Linked DNA regions of Homo sapiens. The protein of the gene in region 1 purifies or fractionates together with the protein of each later gene. This does not show direct contact. Each region holds a gene or a part of one and is shown in the gene's direction. Other genes may lie near its edges.

Region 1 (3,500 bases):
AACAGGAGTGAAGGAACAACTGCATGAACCAGAACCTCAAGTTCTGAAACCATAACTTAGTACTACCAAAGTAGACTCAGCATCACCAGGACATATACAAGTTGTGTGTGTGTGTGTGTGTGTGTGTGTGTGTGTGTGTGTGTCTGTGAGTGAGTCTGTCTCACGAGTGCATTTTTAAACTTTGCAGACAGATTCTTACCCTGTGCTGAAAAGCTGATTGCTTACAGCCCTGAACTTAACAGTCTCTCACTTTAATAACCTCATTGTAAAGAGAGCCTCTTTGCCCCATCTCTAAATATAAATATGAGGGAAAGAGTCTTACTGATTTGGCTTTGGTCCTATGACTATCCCTAAACCAGATAAAATGGGGGAGGAATTTTCTAGGGGAAAGAGGTACTTTTATCAGAACAAAGGGAGTAGAATGTTGTAGGGTGAACAAAAAAGTAATAGCTGTCATAGTTTCTTATTGATGGACTCTTTACATATTCACTGTTATAAATACTATTGCATTGATATTTATAGAATAAATTCCTAGAAGTGGAATTGCTGGATCAATGCATTTTTAATGGCAGATATTGTAGGCTTGACCATCAAAAAGGTTGTATCAATGTACATTCCCACCAATTATTAATCTTTTTATGTTTTTCTAGTCTAATAGATGAGAAGTATCTAATTTTTAAATTTGTACTTTATTTTTTTTTAAAGTAACATATTTAAAAATATTTATTGTATTTTTCTGTGAACTGCTTTCATTATCCTTTTTCAAATTTTCTTTTGGGTTATTGTCCTTTTTCTCATTTTTCATTTTCCTTTTTTCCTCATTGATTTTTTTTTTTTTTTGAGATAGAGTTTCACTCTTGTCACCCAGGCTGGAGTGCAGTGGCGCTTTCTCGGCTCACTGCAACCTCTATCTCCCAGGTTCAAGCAATTCTCCTGCCTTAGCCTCCTGAGTAGCTGGGATTACAGGCACCCGCCACTATGCCCATCTAATTTTTGTATTTTTAGTAGAGACGGGGTTTCACCATGTTGGTGAGGCTGGTCTTGACCTCAGGCGATCCATCCCCCTTCAGCCTCCCAAAGTGCTGGGATTACCATGCCTGGCCATCCTCATTGATTTTTAAAAGCCGTTTGCTCATTAAATAAATTAACTATTTGCTTTAATGAAAAATTATTTAATAAGAAATTGTGGGAAAATATACATAACAGAAAAGTGTACCATTTTAAGCATTTTAAGAGTATCACTCAGTGGCATTAAGTACATTCACAATATTATGGAACCATCAACACTGTTCATTTTGGAACTTTTTTATCATTCCATACTGAAATTGGTATCTGTTAAACACTAACTTCATTCTCCCTCCTTCCCAGCCTCTGGCAACCACCATTCTACTTTTCTGTCTCTATGAATTTGACTACTTTAGGTATCTCACATGATGCAGTAAGTGTCCTTTTATATATGGCTTATTTCACTTAGTATAATGTCTTCAAGGTTTAGCCCTTTGTTTTTATACGTAGTTTGGCAGCTTGTAGAACCTCTCTTTCAGTAGTTGATGGTGACATTTTAAGCTCCTTGCCTACTTGCCTTCTTTCTTTTTCTTTTCTTTTTTAAAAACTTATTTATTCATCATTTTATCTACCTCTAGTATCTCGGAAAAGGAAAGCCAAGAACTGGGAAGATGAAGACTTTTATGATAGTGATGATGACACATTTCTTGATAGGACTGGCCTGATTGAGAAGAAGCGTCTGAACAGAATGAAGAAGGCTGGCAAGATTGATGAGAAGCCAGAGACCTTTGAATCATTGGCAAGTTTTATTTATGGAAGTAGCTGTGGTATTTAATAGTTTAATTTTTAATAACATAATGTATTATTTAAATATGTTTTATGATAATTTTTAAAGTAGTAGCATTGAAATCTGATACTGAAGTATAACTTTTGTGGTCTGTTAATTTAATGGTAACAGACAACTAGTCTTATCCAAGTTGTTTGAAAAAAATATGGCTTGCTGCTAGATCCTTTCCTTCAGGATATTGATCCATTAATTAACATTCTTTGGATATGATATTACCTCTCTCAAAAGGAAAGGAAAAAGTTCCAAGTTAGGGCGTTCTGAGGTGAAATTGACTTTAGCCTTCTGGCAGTCAAGAGAAGTCAAAGGAATTTTGAAGAATGTAGTATGGTAATATGTAGTCTGAAACAGTATGTTCTTCAGGAAATTATCACAAGGTGACGTGTTAATGGGTAGGTAACAGACAATAATAGGCAGGTAATAGGCTACCTATTAGACTAGAAAAAAACATAAGATTAATAATGCAGAGCTTGACCAGAATATGGAGAAGTAGACTCTCAATTGGTGGGAATGTACAATACAACCTTTTAAGTGATCAATCCTACGACATCTGTCAGTATTAAAAATGCATTGATTCAGCAATTGCACTTCAAGGAATTTGTTACAGGTATTAATTTATAGTAGGATTCAGAGCTTAAAACATTACCCAACATCTATCCTTTTGATTTATGTGAAAACAAATGCCTTGAGCTCTTTCTTCTGAGTAAAATGAAGTCCGAGTTATTCATTCTGTTTAATTCTGTGTTTTTTAATTCAGAAATAAATTAAATTTGGATTTAACACATAAAAAGTGTTAACTCCTGGCTGGGCATGGTGGCTCATGCCTGTAATCCCAGCACATTGGGAGGCTGAGGCCGGTGGATCACCTGAGGTCAGGAGTTCGAGACCCACCTGACCAATGTGGTGAAACCCCACCTCTACTAAAAAAAAAAAAATACAAAAATTAGACAGGCGTGGTGGTGTGTGCCTGTAGTCCTAGCTACTCTGGAGGCTGAGACAGGAGAATTGCTTGAATGCAGGAAGCAGAGGTTGCAGTGAGTCGAGATCACGCCATTGCACTGCAGCCTGGGTGACAGTGCGAGACTCCATCTCAAAAAAAAAAAAAAAAAACTATTAACTCTGGCCAGGTGTGGTGGCTCACACCTGTAATCCTAGCACTTTGAGAGGCTGAGGCAGGCTGATCATGAGGTCAGGAGATTGAGACCATCCTGGCCAACATGGTGAAACCCTGTCTCTACTAAAAATACAAAAAGTAGCTGGGTGTGGTGGTGCACACCTGTAGTCCCAGCTACTTGGGAGGCTGAGGCAGGAGAATCGCTTGAACCCGGGAGTCGGAGGTGGCAGAGAGCCGAGATTGCACCACTGCACTCTACCCTGGCAACAGAATGAGGCTCTATCTCAAAACAAAAAAAAAAGTGTTAACTCCATAAGTAGCAGTTTAACTGGACTTTTGAATTAATCTTCTTAAAACTTCTAGTAAGAATAATTAAAACAGGAGGATGAAAAACAGTTTGAAAGAAGAAAAACTTTGTAACCCTGTTGATTTGGGTGTTACAGGTTGCAAAATTAAATGATGCTGAAAGGGAACTTTCTGAAATTTCTGAGAGATTGAAAGCCTCAAGCCAAGGTAAGTTTTTCATCAAATATTTAT
Region 2 (3,500 bases), on another chromosome or scaffold:
TTAAAATAATCAAGTAATATTTTAATTCTTATTTTTTTAGGTGGAGATGAGTTTTCCTAACTGAAAGTGATTAAATATTTTTAAAAGGCTTTAACCTTGACTGCCAGTAACTCAAAGCTTCAAATAATTTTATGAACAGAAATGACTATAAGAGATTTTCTTTCCTTTAGGCAGAACCATATTTAAACCATTTTAAAGAAATGGTAATTAAACTTGATGGAGAGCCTCATCTACTACTAGGAATTCATGTCAGTTTAATCAGTTGCTGAATTTGGTAATCTTTCCTTGTGTCTAATCTAATTCTTATATCCTAAAGCCTGAGTTCATTTTTTTTCTCTCGTCTCTAGTGAGAGAACACCACTGATGTTTCTTTGTGTAATAATCCTTCATGCATATGGAGTCAGGCTTCATTCTCCTCTTGAAGTTAAATGATCTCATTTCTATTTGTCTTGTCACAGAGTCATATTATTCAATAGTTTTTTCATTAGCTCTACAAGAAGCCTCTCAATTGTTTCATGATCCTCCTTCCATTTTTTGAATATTAAGAGCCCTTTCCAAATTTATCAGTTGTCTTATCTGGTTCCTCAGGGTGCTCACCATATCTCTTCCCCATTTTGGAAGCACTGGCAAAGCTAGGCCACTCTGTTCAACAGGATCACTGATAGCAATGTTAAACAGTGAACACTGGCCTAACCCCAACCAATGACCCAAATCTGTGTCCCCTATTAGTAGTTTGGTCAGTTTTATGAAATCTCCAAGTTAAATGATTGTGAGATCTTAATCTCATCCTGCTATTCTGAACTCTACTTAATAAAACAAATAGCCATTAATAACAGTTTCAATGAATGAAAAATGTTGTTAGTACTGTATTGGTTAAGAATCAAAAGGCCTAGGTCATAAACCCAGTGCTAACACTGACTGCCTGGCAAATATTGGGCGGCCCTTTAGCCTCCTTGTGTCTTAATTTATTCACATGTTAAATGAAGAAATTGAATCAGTAATCTCTAATTTTGTGTTCTTAGCTCTAAAATTCAATAATATTGTGATTTAATTATAAAACTCATTTAACTAGACTTTACAGGGAGAGCAGATAATGAGAAAATGTGCTATTCCTTTTTCATGTATATTCCTGTACAAATAAATGCTATCATTTGGGGGAATCTAAGACAGGATTAGGTGTAGAGGAAGGCTCTGCTACTAAGAACAAGAGGAAATAAGAGGGATGTTTAGCAGAGAGTGTTTCTCACATTAAACTGGTGCCTGGTACCTAACTAATGGAATAACATAAGATTACAACTTGTCATTTATGTTAACATTATACAGTGTCTACCTTGAGTCACTCCCATTCTTGAAAAACAATTTATTGTATGTGAGCAGACTTTGAGTATATTGCACATCATTTTATTGAGTTTATTATGCTCCACTTCTTTCCAAAAAGAATCGTGGTGGCTTGCAACAAAAACACATATAATAAGATGACTAGAATAAAACATGAGCCCCAAGAAAAAAGAAACAATATGCTAACCATAAGAGAGGGCATAAAATAGCAGACTGCATTAGGGACTGGCTGGAAGTTAAATTGTGACAAAGATCCATGAGCTCACAAATGTACAGTCTTCGAAAGAGTCAAGGTCCCTCTCTTGCATATTCTTACTTGACAACAGAGGCAAATTACACAAGGCAAGTACACTGCCCTGGGACAGAGATATTATCTGTTAGAGACATGGCAAGTTCTTCAGTTATCGGAGAAAAGTTCAAATGGAGAAGTCTCCCTGCCACAGAGTCTTTCTTCCCATCCTCCTCTAGCACCCAGTTAATTGAGATTTCACTTTTATTGAATTTTAACATGAACCTAAAATATAGCAGATAAGCTCATGAATCTTTGGGATCCCCTTTTTGTTGTTTTTACTTAAATATTTTTAAAAACTTCTGTATTAGGTAATATACTGGCTTATTTATGTTACTTTTACATGTCCTTCAGAATGATAGCTAGTAGGTCGTACATTAATCTTGCCCAATCACTGAAATAACCAAGGATATACCTCCCCTGGTCTTGCCAATGTCCTGTGATCAGATGATACTAATTACTGATCTTAAGTAGTGTGACATTTGTCCTTTAGTTATTTTGTAGTACCTCAGAAGTTCATTGCCAGCCATCAACAAAATAGTATGCCATTTTCAACCTTTCTAGAAGACTTTAGAAACTATTTTAATCACTACTGTTTGAATAGAAACTTTGGGGTGGAAGTTGATAGATTTGAAAGTAAGTAGATAATGTTACCTAGGAAAGGGACCTATTGAATTACAGATATCCCTGGAGTATACTATATACCCAGACCACAGTTAATATTAGATGGTGAGACCAAAGTATGAGTTCTATTTTAAGCTGTTAAATTTCAACATGAAAGTGCCCTTTATTCAGCATAAATATGGCATTCATGAAAGATGAAATACACAAGGTGCCAAAGAGCTGTGGATCCCTCCCAGTGTGAGGCAGAGTGGGCAATGTTTGATTTTCACCACCTCTTCCCTCCTTCCAGAAGCAAACAGAACTCTACCTCTGCTCTGACTTTAGATTCCCACCCTTTCCTGTAATAATATTGTACAGTCCACTGTTTGTGCTTTATGAGGTACCAGAATTTTAAAATAACCATTTATTTTAAAGAGGGATTTTCAGATATTCCATTACAAGTTCTCCTGAAACCTAATCATTGCTTTCCTTGTATTCCAGTTGGAACTATTGGCTTTGGTACAGGGATGGGGAAATAAAGGGATATGTGTTACATTTATTTGAAAAACATTATCCCTCCATGATTTAATTTTTTTTTACCATCATAGTCTGAATAGTTTAATTATTATATTCTTGGCTAAATTTACAATTTGAGTCTCAAAAAGGCTATTCTTTGCAATATTATTAAAATACATAAATGCTGACTGATATGATCAAATAGTTGCTGTGGAAATCTTATGGATTCTCTGACCTAAAAATCAGTTTCGTGTCAATATGTAGTAACTTTTTCACAGCAATTGCCTGAATTTAAGTAGCTGATTTCTCTTTTTTTCCATCTAAAGAACAGATAGTTGGTTCTGTCATTACGTAAGCATATTTGTTTCATCTTTGATGTAAATATTCAGGAACCTCAGAATTTGAAGCCTAGTATATAGGTAAAAGGGCTCGTATTATCTTTCATTAAATTGAATCATTAAAAAACCTGTTCAGCCCTTTGACTGAACTCTTTTGCTTTCTTCCTTCACATTTTACATTTTTCCTTCCTTGTTTAGATATTGGTTTGATAAACAGAACGGCATCATGTGTCTAAGTGATTTCTTCATTTCAAAGGTACCAATTTTGAATTTTATGTTTCCAAACTTTTACACATATGTGTATGTGTGTGTGTGTTTTTCCCCTTAAGCTTCGAGCTGGTCCATTTGATGAGTTCCAGATTGCTACCATGCTAAAGGAAATTTTAAAAGGTCTGGACTATCTGCATTCAGAAAAG
Region 3 (3,500 bases), on another chromosome or scaffold:
TTTCATACTTTGACTGCCCTTGAATGTATTCACCAACAGTAGAGCAACAGCTCTTGCCCCTGGCTGCACATTGCAACTCCCTGGAGAGCTTTGAAAAGATGCCTTGGCCCAGGCCCGCCATGGAAATTCTGCTTCCAACTTACTTGGTCTGGGCTGGGGCTGGCCTCAGGCTTTTGGAAGCTCCCTGGGCAGTTCTTATGGCCAGCAGGGGCTGACGACTGTTGTTTCACAGTTCAGATAAATGGTGTCACCATAAACATGCCTTTCTGCAAGTTGCTGTTTTTGTTCAACATTATAGGTATATTTGAGATGGGATCTTGCTATGTTGCCTAGACTGGACTCTTAACTCCTGGGCTCAAGCTATCCTCCCACCTCAGCCTCTGGAGTAGCTGGGATTACAGGCGCGCACACCTGCTCCCCGCTTTGAGCTGAGCATTGGAGTCTGGATGTCTCTTGGTGGGGATGTGTGTAGGCCTGGGACAGGCCATTTGTTTTTCCTGATGGTGTTTCTTTTTGTGATCGTGTCACACAGGAGTTGCCTGTTCACCTGTTGATGGCCACTGAGGTGGTCCGTTGGAGCTATAACCGTGCAGCAGTGGGCCTTCTGGAACGCGTGTTCCTGTAGACCATGGCCAGAGTCTCTCTGGCATATGCCTAGTAGTGGAAAAGCCGGAGCTCCCCGCTTTCCTAGCGGTTGCCAAGTCATGCCCCCAGTGGCTGGACCACTGTGCTCCCCAGCAGGCTCCGGGGCTCCCTTTATTTCAAGTCCTGCTTTGGGCAGCTTTGTGGCCCTCACTGAAACGATTTCCTCGGCCGTGACATGGGAGGTTTATGGGCCCACCCACCCACCCACCAGGCTGTTTGGAAACAGATGGGGAGATGGTTCACACAACTGGCTTAGCTGGGACCTCGTCCCCACTGACTCCCTACAACCACAGGAGAAGAAAGGATGGAAGGGCTTTCACCTTTACCCCCTTGGGCATCCAGGACGGTGACTGCAGCTTTGCCCCAACTGCCCTTGGGGGCAGGTGCCAGGGGTGACAGCTGGGAAAGAGAACTATACTGATTCGAACCTCTCAGGAGGGAGGCAGGGAGGACGGAGGTGAAAGTTGGAGGATGGGTGAGGCCTTGTAACATTCTTTCTGTGTATCTGACTGTTGGTCCCAGTGGTAACCAACACAGCCCAGCTCTACCCTTGTAGATTATAGTACAGTGAAGGAGACAGACCTGCTGTCCCCAGACGGTGACAGCCCAGAGAGGCCAGGGCTGTGAAGGAGAGGCCTAGGCGAGGGTCAGGGCGGGATGTGGGGGGGACCCAGGCAGAAGGGTCAGGGCGGGATGTGGGGGGGACCCAGGCAGAGGGGTCAGGGTGGGGTGGTGGGACCCAGGCAGATGGGTCATGGCGGGATGGGAGCGGGGACCCAGGCAGAGGGATCAGGGTGGGACTGGGGGGGACCCAGGCAGAGTGGTCAGAGAAGGATGGGGAAACCCAGGCAGAGGGGTCAGGGCGGGATGGGGAAACCCAGGCAGAGGGGTTGGGGCTGGATGGTGGGGAGGGGCACAGAGAGGGATTGGGACTGGGATGGAGGCGCAGGGACCGTAGGAAGCCCGAGGAGGCATGTGGCCCAGCGTGGGGAGTTGAGGAGGGCTTTCTGGATAAGATGACATCTGACTGATGAGAACATATGAGCGAGGCTGGAAGGAGGTGGAAAGAATGTAACAGGTCATGGGTACGGAAGTGCCAAGGCCCTGAGGGTCGGAATGACCTCGGAATGGTCGAGGATCATCAGATAGGCCGGTGTAGGCTATGCTGTGCACCCTGACTGTGTGGTAGCCTTGCTCTGCAAAGAGCAGTTAAAGAAATACATAAAATATAAAATAAATAAATAAATAAAAAAGCAAAAAAAAGAAGCCAGTGTGGCTGAGCAGGGGGTGGGGTCAGAGGCTTGGAGGCGGTGTTGGATACAGCAGGGCCTAGCAGAGCCAGGTGGGGTGTGTGGATTCCATTCTGTGCATAATGGGAAGTCATCAGAGGCTTTAGTGACATCTGGTTTTCCCCTTATAAAGATTGCTCAGGCTGCTGTGTGGGGGACGGATCGCGGGGGGTGGCGACAGGGAGGCTGTGGGGAGGCTGCTGTGACAGTCCAAGCAGAAGAGGGTGGAGAAGACGAGGGGACAGTGATGGAGGAGCGTCCTCGTGCCAGCTGAGGTCATCAGCGCTTTACCCCTGTTACCTCACTTCATCTTCACAGCAACCTGTGAAGTAGGTGCTAGTATCATCCTCACTCTAGAGATGAGAAAGGAGGCCCAGAGAGGTACGGGACTTGCTTAAGGTCACACAGCAGGCAGTGGCAGAGGTAGGATTGAACCCCAGGCCTTGGGGCTTCAGTGTCACTGATTACTGGGGCTGCCCTCCCGTGGTTTGGAACTGGCTCGGACAAGACAGGCCTGATTCCTGTTCAGCTGGTTCTTACCCAGGCTCCTTTGTTGACAGAAGTTCCGTGGAGACCTGTTCCCCCTGGGTAGTTTCTGGGCGCTGGGTCCCTACCTCCCTCAGGGCCTCCCTTTCCTTTCTCATCTACTCCTCGTCCCACTGGCTCGTGGTGAGCCAGACTTCCTGGCCAGACACCGGTCAGGGGTGTCCCCAGCAGCTGTTTCTCCCATCACCGAGCCCAGCCCCGCACATGCTGCCAGCAGGAAGCAACCTCCTTCCAAGTCATGGCCAGGGAAGTGGGACCCTTCCCGCCTAGTCACCCATCCGGGGCCAAGGCTTCTTGTCTGCCAGACGCCTTGGCCCACAGGAAGGTTGGAGGGGCCGAGGAGGGTGAGAAGGGGAACACTCTCCCATCCCAGGGGAGCCAGCGCTGGCGGATGCGACAGAAGCCACCGCTCACTGAAGCCTCTCTCCTGGGACCCTCCGGTCCTGCCCCGACCCTTCCCAGGCTGGGAGGCCATCTGCTGCCTTCCCGAGGGGCAGTGGAACTTCCCTGCCAGGGCTGCTCAGTCCACACACATCCCTTAGCCTTTTTCACTAGCTGGGAGCCCCTGGGGAAGAGACAAAGAACTTCCCTGGGCCTCTGATTCCTCACCTGTTACAGGGAGTATTGGTGGCCACCTCTCAGGGCTGTGGGAGGGCGGAAGATCATGTGTGTGCGTCGTGCTTAGCCCGATGCTCAGCACTCAGTAAGTGCTTGGTAAATGTTGAACTTGGTGCGTTCGATGGTTTCCGTCCCTTGCACCCTGTCCCCCTCTGGGTTCTCATCCCGTAGTGAGCTGTAATAACCCCAGCCCCCCGCCCGGGGTCCCAGCTCCACGTGCCAGGCACGCGTGTGCTGTGAGTCTATGAGCATGGTCATGTGGCTGTACCCAGAGACCCTGAGGAGGAGGTGTTTTTAACCTCGTTTCTCTTTTCCCGTGTTTCAATTTTCAGAAAGCACGTTTTTCCTCCATGTGCATGCATTACCTATTCCCCTAAATAATCACTGAAAAACTGCACACAG
Region 4 (3,500 bases), on another chromosome or scaffold:
TTGTACCATAGACCACAAGGGCAGAAAAACCAAATAGATGAGAAGGGAATCCCAATAGGGAAATTCCTGAGGCGAGATGTGAGGGAATGAGGACTTTGCTACTTGGCAAATTTGAATGAGGTGGGAGCCCACATCCATAGCCTTGTCTGACCTCCCTCAGGTGGGGCTGCCTGGGGCACAGACACACTTTCTACTGGGACATGCTCTGCTTGCTGCTGGGAGGAAGTGGTGGGTCTTGAAGACCATATTGGGGACCAGCTCTGACACTAACTGTGTGATCTTAAGCAAAATTACTCACCCATCTGAACCTGTTTTCTCTCTTCTGTACAATAAGCAATACTTGTCTTGTCCAACCTACAGAGTTGCTAGGAAAACAAAGTACGATCATGTATGTCAGTGCTCTATAAATTGGAAAACGTTCTAGAAATAATTATTATTCCTAAAGTGAGGGAGTTTATCTCAAGGGTCCATCCTTATCTCAGAATTGTTATTACTATAATAAACCTTTTTGCTGAAAACCTTCATTTACTGATATTTACAAATAAGTCCAGCAATGCATTCCTTTGATTTTTATTCCTGCACCTTGGTCTTTTTTAAAATTATTATTTTTTAAACTTTTTCTTTGAACTCTGTTTAGGTGGTGGGTTTTAGTTTAGCGTTTGTTGTTGGGATTGTTATTTTGTTTGGTTTTATTTTTGGCTTGGAGGAGGAAAGTCATTGATTTTACCAAGCTGCATAATTTGTCCGAGCCTGACCCTCCTAACTCTAACATCCCTTATTTTTCCAGATACGGCCTCAAGGTGGACATCTGGGCAGCAGGTGTAATCACTTATATCCTGCTGTGTGGTTTCCCTCCATTCCGTGGGTATGGGCAACAATCTTTTATTCAGCGCCGACAAAGCATTTCTCTACTCTCTGAGTGATCCATTAGCCCTTCTTGCACAAAGGAGCCTGCAGCAGGAAAAGAGCACAAGAACTTTACTTGCAATCCCTGTTATTTTTTCCCTGTTATGTCATGCATGCTAATTTATATGCCTTCCATATTTCTTCCCCATATCATTAAAAACTCATTCTTTCTTTTTTTTTTTTTCTTTCTGGTTTTGAGACAGAGTCTCTCTTTTGCTCAGTCTGGAGTGCAGTGGCACAGTCTCAGCTCACTGCAACCTCTGCCTCCCAAGTTCAAGCAGTTCTCCTGCCTCAGCTTCCTGAATAGCTGGGATCACAGGCGTGCGCCGCCACACCAGTTACTTTTTGTATTTTTAGTAGAGATGGGGGTTTCACCATGTTGGCCAAGCTGGTATTGAACTCCTGACTTCAAGTGATCTACCTGCCTCAGTCTCCTGAAATGCTGGGAATACAGGTGTGAGCCGCCGCACCCGGCCCAAAAACTCTTTCTTAATTTACCAAAACAGATCCACATTGACATTTTTCAATCGATTAAAAATACACATTTTTACACATTTATGGGGGGAAAGGAAGGGCTCCAGTGCCTAAGACTGAAAAGATGTACACTGAGTTGATATCTTAGTGCTGTTTTTCCTTGTTGTCGTTCACCTAAACAGAAGTGGTGATGACCAGGAGGTGCTTTTTGATCAGATTTTGATGGGGCAGGTGGACTTTCCTTCTCCATACTGGGATAATGTTTCCGATTCTGCAAAGGTAGGTGTCCAGTGCCTTCCTCTTCCCTATATTCTGTGTGTCTTAACGGAATTATTTTTCCAAATCATTGTGTGCAAAGAAACTAATGACATCATAAGTATGATTTCTGTACACATTTTAGTTGTAATTGCTAGGTTTTCCAAGATTTCACAGTCATCAAGTCATCTGTTCCCAGACATCCCAACAAGTACTTATCAAGTGTCTCCATCTGCTGCCTTCATCTCTCTCAGGTGCCATTCCAGTGACATTGCTATAGCCTCTTGCTGTGCCCCACCCTCGCCAGGCTTGAGCCCAGCTCAGATTTCTATATGGCCTGTGGTTTCACCTCTCTCAGCTCTTGACTTAATGACTTAATTTCCCAGTGAAGCCTTCCCAGACCATCCTGGTTCCAATTGCATCTCTTAAACCTTACCTGGCTTGCTGTATCCTACTTGTCTGTTTTATTTTTCTCCAGAACACTTAACACCTGTGTGTCCATCTGGTGTGCTATCTAACTACCTATCTCTCTACCCAAAAAAAGATAGATATAAATAAGTAGGCATGTCTTCTTTATATAGTTCATTTCCAGACTCTCTCCACTAGAATGCAAATTCTGCGAAGGCAGGGATTTTTATCTATTTTGTCCATTGCTGTACTATCCCTGCCTAAAGTATGACCAGCATACTGGTGCTCAATGTATACTGAATAAATGAACAAGTATATGAATGAATCCATCAATTAATCAGAAGGAAGAAAACTCAACCTCAACGTAGGTTGAAATCATCAAGAAAGACTTTATGGGGAAGCTATGATTTAAGTTGAACCTTGAATAATAGCCAGGATTTAGAGGCAGAGGGGGAGGAAAACACAAGGTTCATTGTTTTTATCCCATGAAACTAAAAGATCAGTCCTTAACATGGATGAAGGTGATGGTTGCACAACAATGTGAATGCACTGAATGTCAGTGAACTGTGCACTTGAAAATGGTTGAAGTGGTAAATTTTATGTATATTTTACCACATTAAATAATATTTATGATAAATCAACTTCTAAGAAGGCTATAAAAATCTTACATTGAGATGTTTGTAGACCTTGAGGAGAAAAAGGAAAACCTTTTCATTGCTCTTTTTAAAATTTATGTCTCCGAGTGCTGACTTAAATGTTTAAAAATTTGAGAAAAATGTTCTCAATAATTATCTTGAGAAATAATTATCTTTTGATTGCTCAATGTTTATGCCTTTGCTTTTGTCATGTCCTGAATGTGAGTTCCCTTTAAAAGCCAACCCCTCAGACATGACCACTTTGTGTAGAAAATGATGCATATTGAGTGCAAGTCTCTCATTTTCTTCAACTGTCCAGGAAGCTGCCAGAAAGGGAGTGTCAGAGAAAGGCGCAGGCTAAAGGAGATGGGACGATACAGCTGCAGGGCCGGGGGCTCTTCAGGAACCTGTCCAGCTCCCCATGCCATCACTGCAGGATCTGAGGGCTCACAGTTACTGACAAATAGGACCATCTCCTACACCTCCATAGCACCTGCAAAGGGCATCACACACAGCAGATACTTTCACGAGTTCTGATCCAAGTTAGAAACTGAATGAAGAAGGCTGAGTGAACTCTCTCCCTCAATGAAATTAAATCACCCCCTTCCCGAGTGGTACTATAAAGCCTGTGTATGTAAGGAACTGGATAATGCATATCTAACCATTTTGTGACATGGGAACTTCTAATCCAGAGTGGACAATTGTATAGCATACTCATCGTTAAGACCCAGGTAGAGCATTCCTGGTCCAAGTCCATTTGAGCTCATGAGGAAGTTCCATTAATTTCAGGATGATGAAATTGTTTACCTCTCAATAGTTCTA

What was found. The genes of interacting proteins can lie anywhere in the genome.
Region 2: the proteins of SLC4A1AP (region 1) and STK26 fractionate together in Homo sapiens (co-fractionation; one large-scale study listed by BioGRID). This does not show direct contact.
Region 3: the proteins of SLC4A1AP (region 1) and PAK4 purify together in Homo sapiens (co-immunoprecipitation; one large-scale study listed by IntAct). This does not show direct contact.
Region 4: the proteins of SLC4A1AP (region 1) and DCLK1 fractionate together in Homo sapiens (co-fractionation; one large-scale study listed by BioGRID). This does not show direct contact.

What each region holds. Positions count from the first base shown.
Region 1 is NC_000002.12:27,673,889-27,677,388, forward strand, and holds part of SLC4A1AP (kanadaptin), read left to right. Parts: intron 1-1,643; coding exon 1,644-1,804; intron 1,805-3,406; coding exon 3,407-3,476; intron 3,477-3,500.
Region 2 is NC_000023.11:132,064,802-132,068,301, forward strand, and holds part of STK26 (serine/threonine-protein kinase 26), read left to right. Parts: intron 1-3,413; coding exon 3,414-3,500. UniProt on the Homo sapiens protein: Serine/threonine-protein kinase that acts as a mediator of cell growth. Modulates apoptosis. In association with STK24 negatively regulates Golgi reorientation in polarized cell migration upon RHO activation.
Region 3 is NC_000019.10:39,128,786-39,132,285, forward strand, and holds part of PAK4 (serine/threonine-protein kinase PAK 4), read left to right. Parts: intron 1-3,500. UniProt on the Homo sapiens protein: Serine/threonine-protein kinase that plays a role in a variety of different signaling pathways including cytoskeleton regulation, cell adhesion turnover, cell migration, growth, proliferation or cell survival.
Region 4 is NC_000013.11:35,806,383-35,809,882, reverse strand, and holds part of DCLK1 (serine/threonine-protein kinase DCLK1), read left to right. Parts: intron 1-787; coding exon 788-865; intron 866-1,562; coding exon 1,563-1,659; intron 1,660-3,500.